Linked DNA regions of Homo sapiens: region 1 is linked to region 2. The links come from fine-mapping of genetic effects on gene expression. A gene starts in region 2. The other region holds a variant in brackets. All regions are shown on one strand. Distances are between the middles of the regions. Region 1 overlaps SLC25A48 (solute carrier family 25 member 48). Region 2 holds the start of SLC25A48 (solute carrier family 25 member 48).

Region 1 (8,707 bases), 49 kb before region 2:
AAGATTTTCACACAGGGCAGAGAGGGGCACTGATGTGTCTTGGAGGATGGTAAGGCTGGAGAGGCCTTGGGATGGGCACATATGTCAGGCTCGGACCACGGGACAGGGACCAAATGGGACTGAAGATGCTTATACAGAAGCCACCCTGGAGGGAAAGCCATGCCCAGGACTAGCCAGGAAGAACACCAGGGTAGGACAGAGCACCTCCCAGGACCCTGAAGCCTCTCCCTAAATCCCAAACCTCCCAGATCTAAAGTCAACCCCAGGGGAAGGTGGAGAAGGAAAAAATCTTGAACTGGGCATTTAACTTGGAATTTCGAAGTTTTACCCTGAAATGGCAAAATTATTTTTTTCTGTCATCAGCTTGAAAAAAATCTCAATTTAGTTAATAAAAAATAAAGAAACTTTCATTTATTTGCTGCAGACCTGAGGATGTGATTTAATCACTCAACAGACACTAATAAGTGCACAGTGAGGAGCACGCACTGGACTCAGCGTGCGGTGAGGAAGGCGCTACCGCTGTCCTCAGGATCCACGGGTGCAGGAGCGGGGAAAAACCTGGTCGGTGCTGAGAGGAGACTGGAGGCACGGGGACGTGTTACTTGAGACTGGAGGGAGTGGCTGAGCCCAGAGCTCACTGGCCCCTCCCCATCCTCAGACAGAGGAGTGAAGCAACGTTTCTCTGGGTGGTTTCTGGCTCCCTGGTGCTCATGGTCAGGACTTCTCAGCTGGACCAAACATTTCTTGGAAAGCTCTTTGATGCCAGCCTAGCAGAGTGGGCATTGGGGATCAGAACCTTGGAGGGCTTGAATCAGTGACTCATGAGGCATCCCAGGCATCAGAAGGGCCACGTCAGTGTCTGCACCATCCTAGCCCACGCTTGCTAATTGATGTCCACTTGGAGGTCCAAAGGCCAAACATCTGCAGCTCTCAGGGCTTCACATGCAGAGATGAGGCCCAGGGAACACTGTAGTCATCCTGTGTTCACCTCCTGGAAACAGCAAACAACCCAGACTCAGAGAAGAAGGCAGGCAAAGAACAGAAACCAGAAAAATCACACCAGGCCACCCCTTCCTCTAACCCCTATGTTTTGCACTTTACAGTTTACAAAAACACTTTTGCACTTGATTCTTGTGGAAGCTGTGCAAAGTAGGTAAGGGAGACCAGTGTGGCCATTTTACAGATGGCTCAGGGGGCACTGCTGCCTGCAAGAGCACAGGGGGCACTGCTGCCTGCAAGAGCACAGGTGGCTGATGGCCTGCGTGAAACTGGAACCCAAGGGGAAGGCCTCCCTAATGTGAAGTTCTTGCCACCACAGAGAAGGAAAAGGGCAACGCCAAGGGAGATGGTGAGACCCAGGAAACAGGAAAAGAAGTGTCACGGGGCCCAGGTGTTCTCACCACAGGGCCAAGATCGTGCACTCCCAGACGCGGATTCCTGCGGAGGGTTTAGTTGACCTCTACTGCCACCAAGTGGTGGTTCTGCAGGGTATCAGCCTTTGGGCGAGGGATATGTATATACACACATATATATGTGTGTGTGTGTATATGTACACACACACACACACACATATGTATTTTTTCCCCTGTAGGGCAGCAGTTCTCAAAGAGGACCCACGAGGTCAAAACCACTTTCATAGAACACTAAGATGTTATCTGCTCTTTTCAATCTTATGTTCTCACAAGCATACGGTGGAGTTTCCCAAAGGCTATAATGCAAGTGATAACCCATAGACTAAAAGCAAAAGCAGACAGAGGAACACAATTGCCCTCTGTTTAAGCCAGACTTCGCCGCAAAAACGGAAAACGCAAGTCTTCTCGTTAATTATATTGGTTTAGAAAGAATCGTTATTTTCATAGAATGTTATTTATGTTAAAATGTCATGGGTTTATTATTATACCTAAATGGATAAATATTTTTGAAATTCTGTTTGAATTTCCAGTAATTGTTGGTAAATATATAAGCAGTTGTTCTTCGAGGTCCTTAATAATTTTCAGGAGTGAAAGGGGCTGCTGTTGAGGACTGCTGCTGTATGGTAATGATTTTTGTTCTTCTTTTCATCTTTCCTGGTAAGGCAAATTGGCCAACCCTGAAGCCCCCCAACTCCAAGGCACAGACACCAAAACTGGTGCTTGGCTTGGAATTCTGTTTTGTTTTCATCCTTCTTAAAAATAGGATTCCATTTGTTTAAAGACTTTCCTGACCATGACAACAGAAATTAATGCCTGATACTAAGCTCCCTGAGGGCAGGGTCCCTGCCATTGTCACCCAATGCCTGTAACAGCACTGGCCACAGTCAGACTACACACACACACACACACTCTCTCTCTCTCTCTCTCTCTCTCTCTCACACACACACACACACACACACACATATATATATTTTATATATATATATATATATATATATATATATATATATATATATATATATTTGGTTAAATAGAACCATAATGTGTTGATGGAGGAAGACTCACAAGCTGTTGGCCCAACTATTCCACAAGATTGCCCTCTCCAGAAAAATCTAAGAGGAAGCAGATCCATTGCTGGCTGACCCCTCCCAGATCTGGCTACCTCATGAGATTTGTTTGGGCTGGAGCTGAGTTTCTTCAATAAAGCCGAGTTTCATTCATTGCAGCCCAGGTGCTCCTGAGTGGGAGTGAAGGTGCAGAAGATGTGCTGAGGCATTGTCTGCCCAGCATGGAGGAGGGCGGGGGGAGGGGGTGTGGCAGGGGCTGTTACTCAGAGCTGGGCTGAGGCTGGGCAGCGAGGAAGAGCCAGCCCGCAGCCTGGAAAACAAGTATCCAGCAGGGAGCCCTAGCTCTGCAATAAGGTGTGCTTTTATTTTAAGAAATTATAAAAACAATATATGTGTGCTGTAAAAAAATTAAAACATTACAATAATCACCATCATCAAATCACCATCATTATAGTGATGTACAAAGAAATCACCAACATCAAATTCGGAACTGAAAGCCTTCTCCCAATCCCACATCCCAGAAATAGCCACTATTAAATTTGGTGTGTATCCTTCAAGGGTTTTTCAATGCCCATATAATTACCCATATACGATATATATTTTAAAATGAAAATGAATAACATCATATATGTTATTCTGCCCCTCCATTTCTGCACTTACAATGTTGCTGACATATTTCCATGACAATATATGTGAGATCTATCTCATTCTTTTTAGTGGCTGTTTGTTCAACCCCCTCTTCTATTGATAGGCATTTAGAAACTTTCTGAATTTTCATTATTACAAACAATTCTCAATTAACATGGTCATGCTTGCATTTTTGCCCATTAATTTATGCTTCCTTTATTCTAAACCCTGTTCATTCTTGCTGCTATGCTGAATCTAAGGATTGGGAAGACTCAGCCCTGGCTCTGAAGGGGGGCACAGGCCAGTGAGAAAGAGAGGGTGCACAGACATGACTGTAGCACAGGGAGGGACACAGTGCCAGAGGGGTCACGTTGGTGGAAGGACCATGGATGCTGCTGGAGGGGAGAGAGAGAGAGAAGCAAGGAAGCCCTAACATCTAAGGGCTTAAAGCATCTGAGCTGGGTCGAAAACAGGGAGCATTCCTGTTCCTGGTGATGCTGGGGGTAAGAGTGTCCTGTAGGTTAAAGAAAAGCATAGAGGCAGGGAAGCCTGGAGGGTGTTGGGCACACAGCAGCTGGCCCAGCAGGCTTGTGGGATCACTTGGGAACCCTTTCAGCAACATTTAAATGCCCATTGTATGCCTGGCACTGGATGGGATGGGGGAAATGATGAGAGCACAGGGAACCTGGACCAGAGCAATGGGAGGTGGGTCCAGAAGGGCAGTTCTGATGTGGTTGATGGGAGGCCTTCAATAGCAGTTTCAGACGCCATACTTATGTGTCCCAACAACTTTGTCTTTTTTACACCGTAAAATAGCCATCATCATGGCTGCTGGCGATGTACCCTGGGCTGGACAGCAGGGAAGTGTAGCCTCAGGAAGATTATCAAATGGGATTGGTGGTAAAGTCCTGAGCTGGGGCTCAGGTATGTTGGAGCCTCAGTTCCTTCATCTGTGAACTGGATCAGCAATGCTTCTCTCTGCATGCCTCCTTCTACCATCAAGAGGTGCCATGATGATTAATAGAAACTAGGAAAAGCTCAGACACCTGAAGAAGGTGGTTGTTGCATCTCAGCCTCATCAGGAGCACCCAGTAGAAGACCCCAGTTGGCCTTGTGGACACAGCACCACTTCTAAACAAACTGTGCAAGCATGCCTCGCACCGGGAAATGGTCCAGTTGAGGCAGACTTAAGAAACACATTCTAGGATGTGTTAGAGCAGAGACTTCAGGTCTACCCAGGGATGAACCAGGTGCCAGAAGCATCTCTTCACTCGCATCCTCCGTGCCCACCCAGACCCAGTGATACTGGGGCAGACAGGCAGGCTGGTCTCTCCCATCAATAGAGCCTCTCCAATGCACCAGAATGACATGCCACTGGAGTCCCTCATGGCTGTCCCCACCACCTAGGTCAGCATCTGCTCAGCAAATGTTTGATGACTGAACAAATGAATGAATGTCCCACTGCTGGAGGGTGGGCAGCTTGAACAGTAACTTGCAGAGATACCCAGGGGACCCTGCAGTCCCAGGGGCTGTGAAGGAGAAATATTGAGGAGGGCATGCTGAGGGTTTTATTTCAAGCATGGAACCCTCCGCTCCAGTAACAGGTTTCACACCGAAGAGACGGAACACTTTCAACTCTTTTGCACCATAGAATTGCTTTGGTCTTCGGTCTATTAAGACAGAGATTTTTCAGAGACATGGCCCAAATCACTCAAAGGCAGGGGGTGGTTGGGGAACAGCGTAGTGGAGAAACCAAGGAAGACCTTTTCAAGAGAAAGAAAAAAGAACAAATTTGAGGACATTTCCTTCACTGGGATTTAAGCCAGGGATGGCAAATAGATTCATTTTGTATGACAGTTCTGCACGGCTGGTGGTGGCTGCCACGGCACTGTGCTGAGAAAGACTCTGAGGCGCCACTCAGCTCATCAAGAAAGGGCTCTATGATTGACTAGGAATGCTTGTTGTGGGCACAGAATTGGAAGAGGCTGCAGGGACACAAGCCACATAACAGCAAAATAGCAATGGCCTCCCCA[C/A]GCGGCTCTAGTAAGGAATAAAATTTAGAACAATGAAGTCACTCTGGAAGCCAGACTGTGGATCAAGTGTTTTGTTTTGTTTTGTTCTCCATGTAAAAATAAGGCCCAGAGAGTGCCCACCCCAACCAAGCCCAGGGCCAAACTCTCTGAAGCAAGTCACCAACGTGTGCCACTGCTCAGGGTGGGAGAACCCCTAGAAGGTTTCTGTCCCTCATCACCCTGTTCAACCACTACGCCCTCTGCTGCCGACCTTAGGCATCTGGGAAAAAAGAAGCCAGGCTGCCCCGGCTCAGTTTCTCTCCTCACCTGTGTGGAGGGGTTTTCCCTCTGGGCCTGCAACACCCACAGAGGCCTGAACAGAGAGAGAGGAATGACAGTGGCCAGGTGCCTCTTGGAAGCTAGGCAGAGGCATCTGACAGAGAAACAATGTGAAGAGGTTTTTAATGCTTTTATTTTGAAACTTAGAGCCAACTCCAGCTCTTCCATGAATTCACAGTGAGTTTACAATGGCCATGGGGGGAGGGTCTATTTTACTCCAGTTTTGTTTTGTTCTGTTCGTTTGTTTGTTACCAGGTGCAGGTCCAAAGCTGGAATAGTTGGTGATCAGTTGACCAATGGTCAGTTGAATCCCTCCAAGGCAGAAGCTCCGCTGCCCCAGCCGGGGTGGGGATGAGAATGCTTGTAATTGTGAAGGAAGGAAGAGGTTCTGAGGACAGCCTGCCTGGCTGAAAGCCCACCTGGTGGAGAGTCTTTCTCTTCAGTAAATTCACATCATGGGTTCTGCAGACACTTTTAGCATTGACCTGTTAATGGGATGAGACCCTGGGAAAAAGGAGGAAAGACAAGAACATCTTCTAACGGGAGTCTTGAAATCTTGGATCTTGGGGTCAAACAACCCATTTGGAGACTGGGTTTGTGAAGCAGTAAGAGGCAAAGTACAGACTGGCAGAGGCTCTCAGGGTTGCCGGGGCTATTTGAAAATGTTCAGCAAAGGTATCATAAGAGCACTATGTCTTCTTTCCTTGAAAATCAGTTTTCCTGAAACCGAAAGTAGGCTAGTGAGACCTGCAGCATGCATGTCAGGACCGAGGGCAGACCAGCACTATTCCAGGGAGCTCTGGGGGCTGGTCTTGGACAGGTAGGGATGGCAGAGTTGGATTCATGAGCCACAGACAAGTCTGAGAGCCAGCCACTGGTAAGTGGTCGGGATGCCACTTCTACCACCAAAGGTCACTGATCTTCCCGCATGGAACTTGGAAAAGCTGGGGGATATCTCCATGCCTGGTTGTTGGAAGGCACCTGGCAACTGCTGGGAGCTGGGTGATCTATCCCCTGCAGGCTCTTAGAAACAATTCTCAAGTCATCCCTGTCATCTGTACTCAGGAACTCTCGAGATGGTCCCCATCCCGCCACTTCTTAGGGACAGCTTGGCACCCTAGATCTCTAATATACATCATCTCACTCTGTCCTGGGTCTAGACAATGAGGGAGGCATTCAAAGAGTAGGTGTGACTGCTGCCTGAGCATGGGCTTCCCCAAATCTCAGAGCTACTTGGTAAATTAAAATCCAGTCTTGTTAAAAGGCCTTGGTATTTGGGGGTTAGAGCAGGAAGTTGAATGCCATGGGCAAGACTTGTTTAAGATGAATCTGCAGACCAGTGGCTGGGAACCTCCCTCTCCCACCAGGAGGCAATAGCCTCCTCCCTGCCTTAGCAGTCCTCCCTCCTAAGGGAGACAGACATCTATGCCCCTTGCAAGAAAGAGCGCTTCCAGAAAGAAAAGCTTCCAATTGGGTTGGTCACTGCTTGTGAAAGGCTAAATGCAGGACAATCGTGATTGGGTAGCTAGAAATTTCCTCCTTTGTCCTGAAGCAGTTAATCACCAGGGTGGTCACAGTGGCAGGTACGACAGGTTGGGCAGGCATCCAGCCACTCTGGGATCTGGGAGGTCTTGGCATTAAAACCATCTTGTAGCTGAAGATTTCATGACATGGGAAAATGGTCCCAAACTACTAAATGGGAAAAGAGGGCTGTAAAACACTGTGTAGAATAGGATCCCAATTTGAAAATACACATAAGACATACTTGGAAGAATAACAACAAGGTCTTGTGATGACAGGTCTTATTATTTTGTTCTTTCTGTTTATTTAAATTTTCTATTTTTGTCTACAATAAAAATGCCTGGCTTTTGTTATAGGATTTTTAAGAAATTACTTTTCTCTGTTAAAAGGGGGAAATGGCCAATATCTGAGCACAGCTTTAAGAATAAGATGAATTCCTTCCCTATCCTGGATGCCACCCAAATGCAGTAATTCTTCACTCAAGATGTTTAATTATGTAAACTGTGTTGCTACCCTTTTCCTTTTATAAGAAAGGGCAAATAGCCAGAGAAGCTGTGAATGTTGCCACTTTAGCAAAAAGTGGAGAGCATTTTATTTGAAGCCAGCTTCTGGGGCTTGTCCTGGGCTGACTACAGTCTGCCTGATTGGTCAGGCCCCCTCCCTTTGTCCAGGTTCTGGCACCACCCGTGCACCCTGGCAGGGCTCTGCCGTCCCGAGAATGCCCCTGCCAGCTCACGGGGGAGGCAGCAGTGAGGTTTTATAGACAAAGATCATCCTTCCCAGGAGAATTTGTGCTAACCAAGACTGATGTCAAATGGCTTCTTGGTTGACTAGAAAGTTCAGTCCACACTTACTTTGTCTTCTGAGCTTTGCAGGTAGCCGGTATGGGGCCAGACAATGAGGAAGAAAAAACACAGGGAGGAAGAGGAGGCCTGAGGGCATATGGGGGTTGGTCATCCACCCATCCGATGACACTGCTGAGTGGCCCTTTGTGTGCTGGGCTCTGTGCCAGGCACCATTAGTGCAAAGGTAGGGACAGCGCAGCAGCCCCACCTGGGGAGTGAGGGTGTCCTCTGGCATTTAGGATGCAGTGTGGGTGGGGGTGGGGGATGGTCTGCAGAAGGCGCGACTCACCCTAGCTGAGAAAGCAAGCCGGCATCCTGGAGGAGGAGACTTCTACAGCCTGGATGGCAAAGAGCTGGTGAAGCCAAGGACAAGTAGGAAAGGAGCGAGAAGAGGATGTCAGGCAGAGGGGACAGCCTGAGCAAAGACCTAGGGGTGAGAGAGACGGCGGGACATTCAGAACAGTGGTGAGGAGTGAGGCTGGCGGAAGCAGGGTGAAGGCTTTATCTAGAGGGCAATGGGGAGCCAAGGAGGGCATGTGAGCACAGGAGTCAGACTGCTGTCTTTAGAAGAGTCCTCAGGCTACAGTGATCTTTCTGCAATGAGAAAGAAAAAGAGGGTATGGGAGGCAAAGAATGGTGGCAGAGACCTGTCCTCTAGGGCTCTGGCAGCCTGTGGGTGGCTCTCAGAGTCAGGCTGTGCAGTTCAGTAGGGAGGTGGGGAGACGGTGCCCCCTGCAGGTACCCTGGTTGCAGTCCTCACTTGTGAGCCTGGGTCACTTGCATCTGCACAGTGAAGGTAAAAGTACTTCTCTGAAAGGGCTGTTGAAGCTGCTGGAAGGGGAAACGGAGAGGCGAGCTGTCTGGAAACAGGTATATTCTGTGCC
Region 2 (8,707 bases):
CTATCAAAGACATGCCCAAGCCTGGGTAATTTATAAAGGAAAGAAGTTTAATCAACTTACAGTCCCACATAGCTGGGGAGGCCACACAATCATGGTGGAAGGTGAAGAAGGAGCAAGTCATGTCTTACATGGCAGAAGGCAAAAAGAGAGCTTGGGGAACACCATTTTATAAAGCCATCAAGTCTCATAAGACTCATTCACTACCACAAGAACAGCACAGGAAAACTCGCCCCCATGATTCAATTACCTCCCACTGGGTCTTTCCCATGACACATGGGTCTCTCCCATGACATATTATGGGAGCTATAATTCAAGACGAGATTTGGGTGAGGACACAGCCAAACTATATCATTCCACTCCTGGCCCCTCCCAAATCTCATGTCCTCACATTTCAAAACAAATCATGCCTTCCCAACGGCGCCCCAAAGTCTTAACTCATTTCAGCATTAACTCAAAAGTCCACAGTCCAAAGTCTCATCTGAGACAAGGCAAGTCCCTTCCACTTATAAGCCTGTAAAATCAAAAGCAAGTTAGTTACTTCCTAGAAACAATGGGGGTACGAGCATTGGGTAAATACACCTGTTCCAAAAGGGAAAAATTGGCCAAAACAAAGGGGCTACAGGCTCCATGCAAGTCTGAAATCCAGTGGGGCAACCAAATCTTAAAGCTCTGAAATGATCTCCTTTGTTCCATGTTTCATATCCAGGTCACACTAATGCAAGAGGTGGGTTCTCATGGTCTTGGGCAGCTCCATCCTGTGATTTTGCAGAGTACAGCCTTCCTCCCAGCTGCTGGCATGAGTGTCTCCCAGGAGTTAGCAAATGCTATCAACATAGCTCATCTGCATGCCCCACTGCAAAGGAAAGTGCTCTGAGAGGTCACCATCAGGGAAGAAACTGAGGGAGAAAGGAAATGGGGTTTCTTTTTTAAAAAATAATTTTATAAAAAATTATAATACCCATGAGGCTGGCAATGAGTGTCTGTGGCTTTTCCAGGTGCATGGTGCAAGCTGTAAGTGGATCTACCATTCTGTGGTCTGGAGGATGGTGGCTCTCTTCTCACAGCTCTACTAGGCATTGCCCCAGTGGGGACTCTGTGTGGGACTCCCACCCTACATTTCCCATCCACACTGCCCTAGCAGAGGTTCTCCATGAGGGCCCCACCCCTGCAGCCAACTGCAGCAAACTTCTGCCTGGACATCCAGGCATTTTCATACATCCTCTGAAATCTAGATGGCAGTTCCCAAAGCTCAATTCTTGACTTCTATCCACCCACAGGCTCAACACCATGTGTAAGCTGCCAAGGCTTGGGGCTTGCACCCTCTGAAGCCACAGCCCAAGCTGTACCTTGGCCCCTTTCAGCCATGGCTGAAGTGGCTAGGACACAGAGCACCAAGTCCCTAGGCTGCACAGAGCAGAGGTCCCTGGGCCCAGCCCAGGAAACCATTTTTTCCTCCTAGGCCTCTGAGTCTGTGATGGGAGGGGCTGTCACCAAGGTCTCTGACATGCCCTGCAGATATTTACCCCACTGTCTTGGTGATAAACATTTATCTCCTTGTTACTTATGCAAATTTCTGCAGCAGGCTTGAATTTCTCCCCAGATAATGGGTTTTTATTTTCTATTGCATTGTTAGGCTGCAAATTTTCCAAGCTTTTATGATCTGCTTCGCTTTTAAACATAAGTTCCAATTCCAAACCATATCTTTGTGAATACATAAAACTGAATGCTTTTAGCAGCACCAAAATCACATCTTGAATGCTTTGCTGCTTAGTAATTTCTTCCACCAGATACCCTAAAACATCTCTCTCAAGTTCAAAGTTCCACAGATCTCTAAGGCAGGGGCAAAATGTCACCAGTCTCTTTGCTAAAACATAGCAAGAGTCACCTTTATTCCAGTTCCCAACAAGTTCCTCATCTCCATCTGAGACCATCACAACCAGGACTTCATTGTCCATATCACTACCAGCATTTTGGTCAAAACCATTCAACAAGTCTCTAGGAAGCTCCAAACTTTTCCACATTTTTCTGTCTTCTTCTGAGCCCTTCAAACTGTTCCAACATCTGCCTGTTACCCAGTTCCAAAGTTGCTTCCACATTTTCAGGTATCTTTACTGTAACATCCCACTCTACTGGTACCAACTTACTGTATTAGTCCATTCTTATTCTGCTAATAAAGACATTACTGAGACTGGGTAATTTACAAATGAAAGAGATTTAATTGACTCACTGTTCTACATGGCTGGGGAGGCCACACAATAATGGTAGAATGTTAAAGAGGAGCAAAGTCACATCTTACATGGTGCCAGGGAAAAAGAGAGCTTGTGTAGGGAACTCCCCTTTATAAAGCCATTGGATCTCATGAGACTTATTCACTACCATGAGAACAGCATGGGAAAGCCTGTACCCATGATTCAATTACCTCCCACAGGGGTCCCTCCCATGACATGTGGAATTATGGGAGCTACAATTCAAGATGAGATTTGGGTGGGGAAACAGCCAAACCGTATCAGCCTTGTTGCAGCAGTTAGTGACTGAAATTGAAAGGGAAACTGTTCTTCAAAGACAAATTCCCGAGAACACTGAGGAGGAAGGAAATATCTGTGTTAGTAGAGGTGATTTAACCAGGTAGCTAAGGGCTCCTGGAATATTAGATATTTATAGGGACAAAGAAACCAGCTAATCCCAGAACAATGATTCCCTGGGTCCAGAACCACCTGTCCCCTCTTATCCCCTCCTACCTACTAAACTGGGCAGAGGCAGAGAGGTGATGGCAGTAATTAACCCTTCCCAGTAGTGGGGGGAGGTGCGCTGGTCCTCAGGCTCCATGGCTTCCCCCATAGTGAGTGCACACATCCTTCAGCTCAGGGCAGGCTTAGATCCAGCCTTGGGCCAACATCTCCCTGCCACTTATTAGCCCACCCATCTGAAAGCAGGGGATTTGAGATTTAAAAAAATGGGATTATAAGGTCAGTGATTTCCAGACCTTGGCACTTCACAAACCAGTAAAATCTCAAACAAAATGTGTGTGTGTGTGGGGGGGGGGGGTGGGGGGGGGGATAATATCAAAAAAAGGGCAAAATTTTGTTATGCAAGGTTGTTCAGAAAGAGTTAAGATGAAATTAAGATGGCAGATTCTGGTGCCAGGCAGCCTGGGTTGGAATCCTGGTGCCAATGCTAGATGCATGGTCTTAGGCAAGTCAGTGAATTTCTCTGTATCTCAGTTTCCTCATCTGTAAAATAAGGATGCAACGGTACCTACCTCTTTGGGGTTGTTATAATAATTAAAGAACTATACATAAACTGACACAAGAGATCACATATTGCAAGATTCAATTGACATAACATATACAGGAAAGGCAAATTTACAGAAAGGAGATTAAGGAGAGGGAACAGCATTCAACTTCAAATGAGGGATCTTACTGGGGGATGAAAATGTTCTAAAACAAATTTATGGTGATGGTTGCACCTCTTTGTAAAATTACTAAAAGACATTGAATTGTACATTTGAAATGGGTGAATTTTATAATACATAAAATAAACCTTGATAAAATTGTTTTAAAAGAATACATATAGCACTTAAACTATACCTGGCACCTAGTAAGTATTCAAGTGTAGTAAACACTTACCATCATTTCATGGAAGCCAAAAAAAAAAAAAGCCATGTTATTAGTTTGGTGCAAAAGTAATTGCGATTTTTGCCATTACTTTCAATAACATCACCAAAGTAAGGACCAGAATAAAGCACAAAAATCCCCTACTTGCTGTGAGTCGGGGAGGGTTCACATGTTATCACGTTTGGGGATGGGGAGGGGTATCAGAGTCTTGGAACTACTCTGACTCAGCCCTACCTTCCAGGGCATTTTTCAAACCAAGCCATTTGCATCCCTACCGAAGGTGGTCTGCTTATTTAAGGGGCAGCCCACGGAAGTGTCTCCTCTCTCTGCCTGCCCCGCTGAATGGTGGAATAATTGTCCAGTCAAAAAGGACCTGGATATGCCCAGCGGGCCTCAGGCTGCAGCCCCCTAACTGGGAAAGTTAGGAGAGGCGGGTCTCAGCCCCACCCAAGGGCATCTGTGCCAACAGACTTACTCAAGGTGAAAGGAGCCACCTCTGCTCAGGAAGGTGTGAAGCAGGGCCCTGCAGCCACCGGTCTCGGGAGAGAGGTGGTCTCCTGCTAGGTAGGAGGGGAGGAGTTGGGATCCAATCTGGTTTGTTGTTCTTTTCATCTTATTTTTTCACCCCTTTGGTGAGGGGCTACATTTGCCAACATCCCTTTTAGGATAACCCTTTTAGATGGGTCCAAAGAAAGACTTTTTTTTTTTTTTTTTTTTTTTTTTACAATTAGCAAAGTCCCTCAAACTTCCCCCTTTCCTAATAGCTGAGAAAAGAGGGATAGACCAATTGGAAAGAAAAATGGAGAAGCAAGGAAATGAATGCAACTCTCGCCCAGGCAACCCATCCCAGGCCCAGTAAAAGAGTGGCTTCGGGAGCTGTGGCGAAGGGATCAGCAGACCCAACAGTGCCCGGAGAAGGGGCCTTGGAGGTAGGCGATGGCTGACGGTTGGCGGCGGCTGAAGGCAATAAGTGCTCCTCGCAGCCTGGCAATGGGCACCTGCAGCCGGCGCTCCGCTCCCTGCTGTGAGAGCTCTGCTCCCTCCAGTCGGGACGCCCCGTTGGGCCGGCCTAATCTCGAAGCCTGGCTCCCACCACCCTGCGCCCCGGGATCAGCAGCCAAGCGCTACCCTCATACATAAGTTCCCGCGAGCCACGTCCGCAATTCAGGTGTGCACCAGGTCACTGAAGGGTGTGTGCGCCGCCAGGAGCCTCCATTGGCTGTGGGCTTTGACGAGCTGTTTAATCATTACCTCATCAAGTCCCACGGATCCTAACTTAATGAGCAAATCAGAAGCTCAGCCCGAAACGCTGTGAAGCTCTCAGAATTTAGCCCTGGCAACTGCAAGACCACCAGGGGGATCTCGGGGCCGGGCACTCCCCAAAGCAGGCTGCGCGCACAACGGGGAGCGGGATGGCAGCGCACAGAGGCAAAGTTTCCTCAGAGCATAGAGGCAAACTCCGCCAGGCTCGCTCTCTCTGACCGGGGGTCCCCGGTAAGCACACTCACCTCCGATCCAGCCCGCCGCAAAGTCTTCCAGCTGGAAGCTTCCCATGGCCGGCGCTCGGTCTCGCCCTCCCGGAGCCGGGGCAGTGCCCACTTAGAGTCAGTGGGGCATGGCCCGCGGGCGCGAGCGCGCCGCAAGACCGAAGTCGGAGTCTCGAGCACGCCGCAGGTCCTACTCCAAACCCAGTCCCCCAGTCACCGGCTGCGCGGGCTGCCGCGCTCACCTCTCCAAGTGCCGGAGGGCGGCTGACATCACGCCCCCAGTGGACCTTAAAGGCACAGCACTCTGGGTGGATAAGGGTGCGCTCCGCGCGGCTCATCCCAGACACAAAGAGGCAAGGGTCATCAAGTGAAATTCTCTTAGTCCTCCCTTCTCCGGGTTATCCTCTTCCTTGCCAACTTCAGAGCCTCAGCGCCTTTGAACTGAAAGTGCCAGCCGCCCATCCAGAGACGGCAATGCGCGTATCTCCCTGTACTGTGCTGTGCTGACAATGCTGATTCCAATCAGCTGTGGACTCTCTCCCATCCCAACTCTGGGCAGTGATGCCTTTTTGTTCATCTCAGCCATGTCCCACTCAGTACCCCGTGCCTAGAGCAGGCACCTGGTGGTTCAGGGTCATGTCTAACTTTCAGCTACAGCTCTCTAGGGGCCCAGCTCCCTGCCTGGCCCTGGCTCACCCTACACTGTCCGCCCTGGGCCAACAGAAGGCAGAGGTGGTGCTCTGTACCTCAAACTCCCTCTCTGTAGGCAGACCCTACATTCAGCCAGGCCCCAGGCCAGGGGTCCGTGCTCACTGGAGAAGTGGCCTGCTGTGCGGAGAGGCTTTTGATTACAATGAGAGTGTCTTTCCTCCCTTCCTAAGAAGACTCGAAGCCCCCCAGCGTTCTGCTAGTTTCCAGCAGGGACTCAGCTGTGGGTCTCAGCCAAGACACCCCAAGGTTGACAAGAATGGTGAAGGGTATGGTCAGGAGGAAGGGGCCTCTGCTGGGCCTGCTCTTGTCCCACTGGGCATATTCATGTCACGTCATCCAGGTTAATATGAAGCGACAGCCAGCCAGACCTCCTTCTTCCAAAGCAAGACAGAGCCTGACCACCGAAGCTTGATCCTACAAAGGCCTGTCCACTGAGGAGTGGGGACTTGGAGGTGAAGGGACCTTCCTGCAGCATCACTCCCTCCCCTGCCCCGGCACACAGAGAGTGGACCTGTATCGGGAGAGGACAGCCCGGGATGGAGTCGCCGGCCTGGCTAGGGAAGTATTGCAAAGTTCCAGGGAGGAGTGGAAGCATCACACCCCATCCCGGCACCTCAACTTCCTGCTGCTTATGGTGACCCACTCAGTCTTGAGGCTTCAGAGTTGCCATCAGCATCAACCCCAAGCTGTGCCCTGTCATGCCCGGGATATATGCCTAGGGCTGCTATGAGAAATGCAGGTCTCTGAAGAGTGGCCTTTTACTGAGTTCACCATTGGAATGCATCCACAAGTGGAAAGCCTGACAATTCTCAAAACCCACTCCTCTGGAAGACCACCTAAGGGGTGCCAGGCAGTTTGTCATCCCCTCAGTCCTGTGTCAGCACCAATTGAGGAGGTCTTACGTTGGCAGGCAGTGTCCCTGGCAGCCCAGGATGGCCTCCCAGGCCCAGAAAGCTGCTGCTTGAACTACTAACGAGCTGGAGCAGAGCAGGAGTGGGTTGCTTTCCAAAATGAATTACTGTGCTCCATTCCCATATGCATGCCACAAACCTGCCCATGGGGCGCATCACCCAGGGAAGTGAGGGGAGGACCCTAGGTTTACCAGCAACCATGGCCAGGCCTGGAGAATCCCAGACCACAGGGCTATGAGCCCAGGCAGAATGCTGGCTCTGTGGCCAGGATCCAGGCCATCCCTTCTTCCTGGCCTTCGCACTTCAGAGCACCATTTGCAGTGTGCTGCCATTCACATTTGCATTCTACACTCGGGAGAGGGCAGGGCAGCTACTGGCCATTACAGAGAGAAAGAAACTCCACAGAGATCCACTCCCTGCATGACTAGGGCCAGAAAGCAACCCCATTTTCTTTCTCCCTCAGTTCCTTCCCCAATGATGACCTCTCAGAGCACTTTCCTCAGTAGCAGGACATGCAGATGGGCTATGCTGATAGCATTTGTTAACTAGTGGCCCACTCCCCATTTCTTATTTACCCTTTCAGGCCACAGCAATTTCCTGAGCATCAGTCTGTGCTAGTGCCTTGCTTTGGGGAAAGTCTCTGTTTGAGAGGAGACAATCCATCTGAGATGCTACACAGAGGTGGCTGTAAGAGCACTGGAGAGGGAGTCCATCGTTCTACAGGAAGCAATCAGGGAAGGCTCTCCAAACTTGGAGTCTCCTGGCTGCACCTTTAGTCTACACAGCCCCACAGCTCCCACCTCCCCAACCACTCTCTCAGGCAAGCCAACAATCCCCTCCCCATGTCCACCTGCCACACTCGGGCAGCAAAGGCCTGGGTCAGCTGTCCATGCCTGACCTGCTGCAGTGAAGGCGCTGCCCATGCCGCCTGCTCCCCTCTGCTTCCAGATTCCTGCCCTCACCCAGCTTTCCTCCTGCTTCTCCAGCTCTTCTCATCTTCTTCCCTGGTGCCATGGCCCCTTCTCATGCTTAGGTGTGAATTCCTCAGGGCCCCATCTGGACCCTCACCCACCCGTACCTCCCATCTCTCAGCGTATAACCCCCACACCTTGCTTCAGAGTCCAGACATCCCTCTACTCAACACCTCCACCTGGGTGGCTCGGGTCATCTTAGCGCATCCCTCGATGAACTCTCTCTTCCTCCGCCAGTGCCTCTTCAACTTAGAGAAACACACCTCCACCCAGTGGCCACCCAAAACAGAACCTTGGATGCCATCCTCCATTTCTCTCTCCCAAGGTCTTATCCCACCAGCCGCAAAGTCCTGAGTGTCCATCCCCTCAATGACACCCAGCCCTCATTGCTGTCTCCGAATGTGGCTCAGCCCAGCCCTGTGCCACTGCCCTGCCTGGATCACAGTGGACACGGGTTCCTGGGTCCCTCTGCCCCTGTCCTACTGCCCCAGTGAGCTTCTGAAACTTTGAATCTGCTCAGTTTAGTGAACTTTGATGACTTTCTGTGATCTTGAGCATAAATTCCAATTCCCCAGTGTGTTGTGTGTAGCTCAGTAGGACTGGGTCTGGCTGCTTTTCCACTTTGCACCTCAATGTCTCACATTCTGTGCATGTGTGTGACTGCGCACATGCTATTCCCTTGTGGGGAACACCCTCTCCCTCCTCCCCTGGCTAATCCCTGCCCCCTTCTTCTTTAAGACTCAGTTCAGCTGTCACCTCCTGACAGGCCTTTCTTGAAGGCCTTCCTCATCACCCTATGCCACATGGTATCTTCTAGATCTCATCTGTGTTTCCTGAATATTCTGAGCATATCTGTATCTCTGCTGTCAGACTCAGTGGTTGATTGTCTTCCCATCCAGACTGTGAGCCCACTGAGAAGAGGGTACTGCCTCATTCTGCACTGGACCTGCAGAGCCTGGCGCAGGCCTGATGGGCAGTCAGTCACTGCTTAGTCCGCTGGGCCTTAAATGAGG

What was found. PIP is the estimated chance that this variant, and not a neighbour inherited with it, causes the effect.
Region 1: its variant is fine-mapped to the expression of SLC25A48 in tibial nerve (GTEx, PIP above 0.99).

What each region holds. Positions count from the first base shown.
Region 1 is chr5:135,880,316-135,889,022 of GRCh38, reverse strand. It overlaps SLC25A48 (solute carrier family 25 member 48), which reads right to left. Exons shown (of 8, transcript NM_001349336.2): 8 at 386-991. Among named protein-coding and RNA genes, the nearest start is that of IL9, 11 kb to the left of the region's middle. The variant C/A (reference allele first, on the strand shown) is at 5,140.
Region 2 is chr5:135,831,309-135,840,015 of GRCh38, reverse strand. SLC25A48 (solute carrier family 25 member 48) reads right to left here and starts at 5,353. Exons shown (of 8, transcript NM_001349336.2): 1 at 5,123-5,353. The coding sequence starts at 5,168. RefSeq lists an enhancer at 5,887-6,388.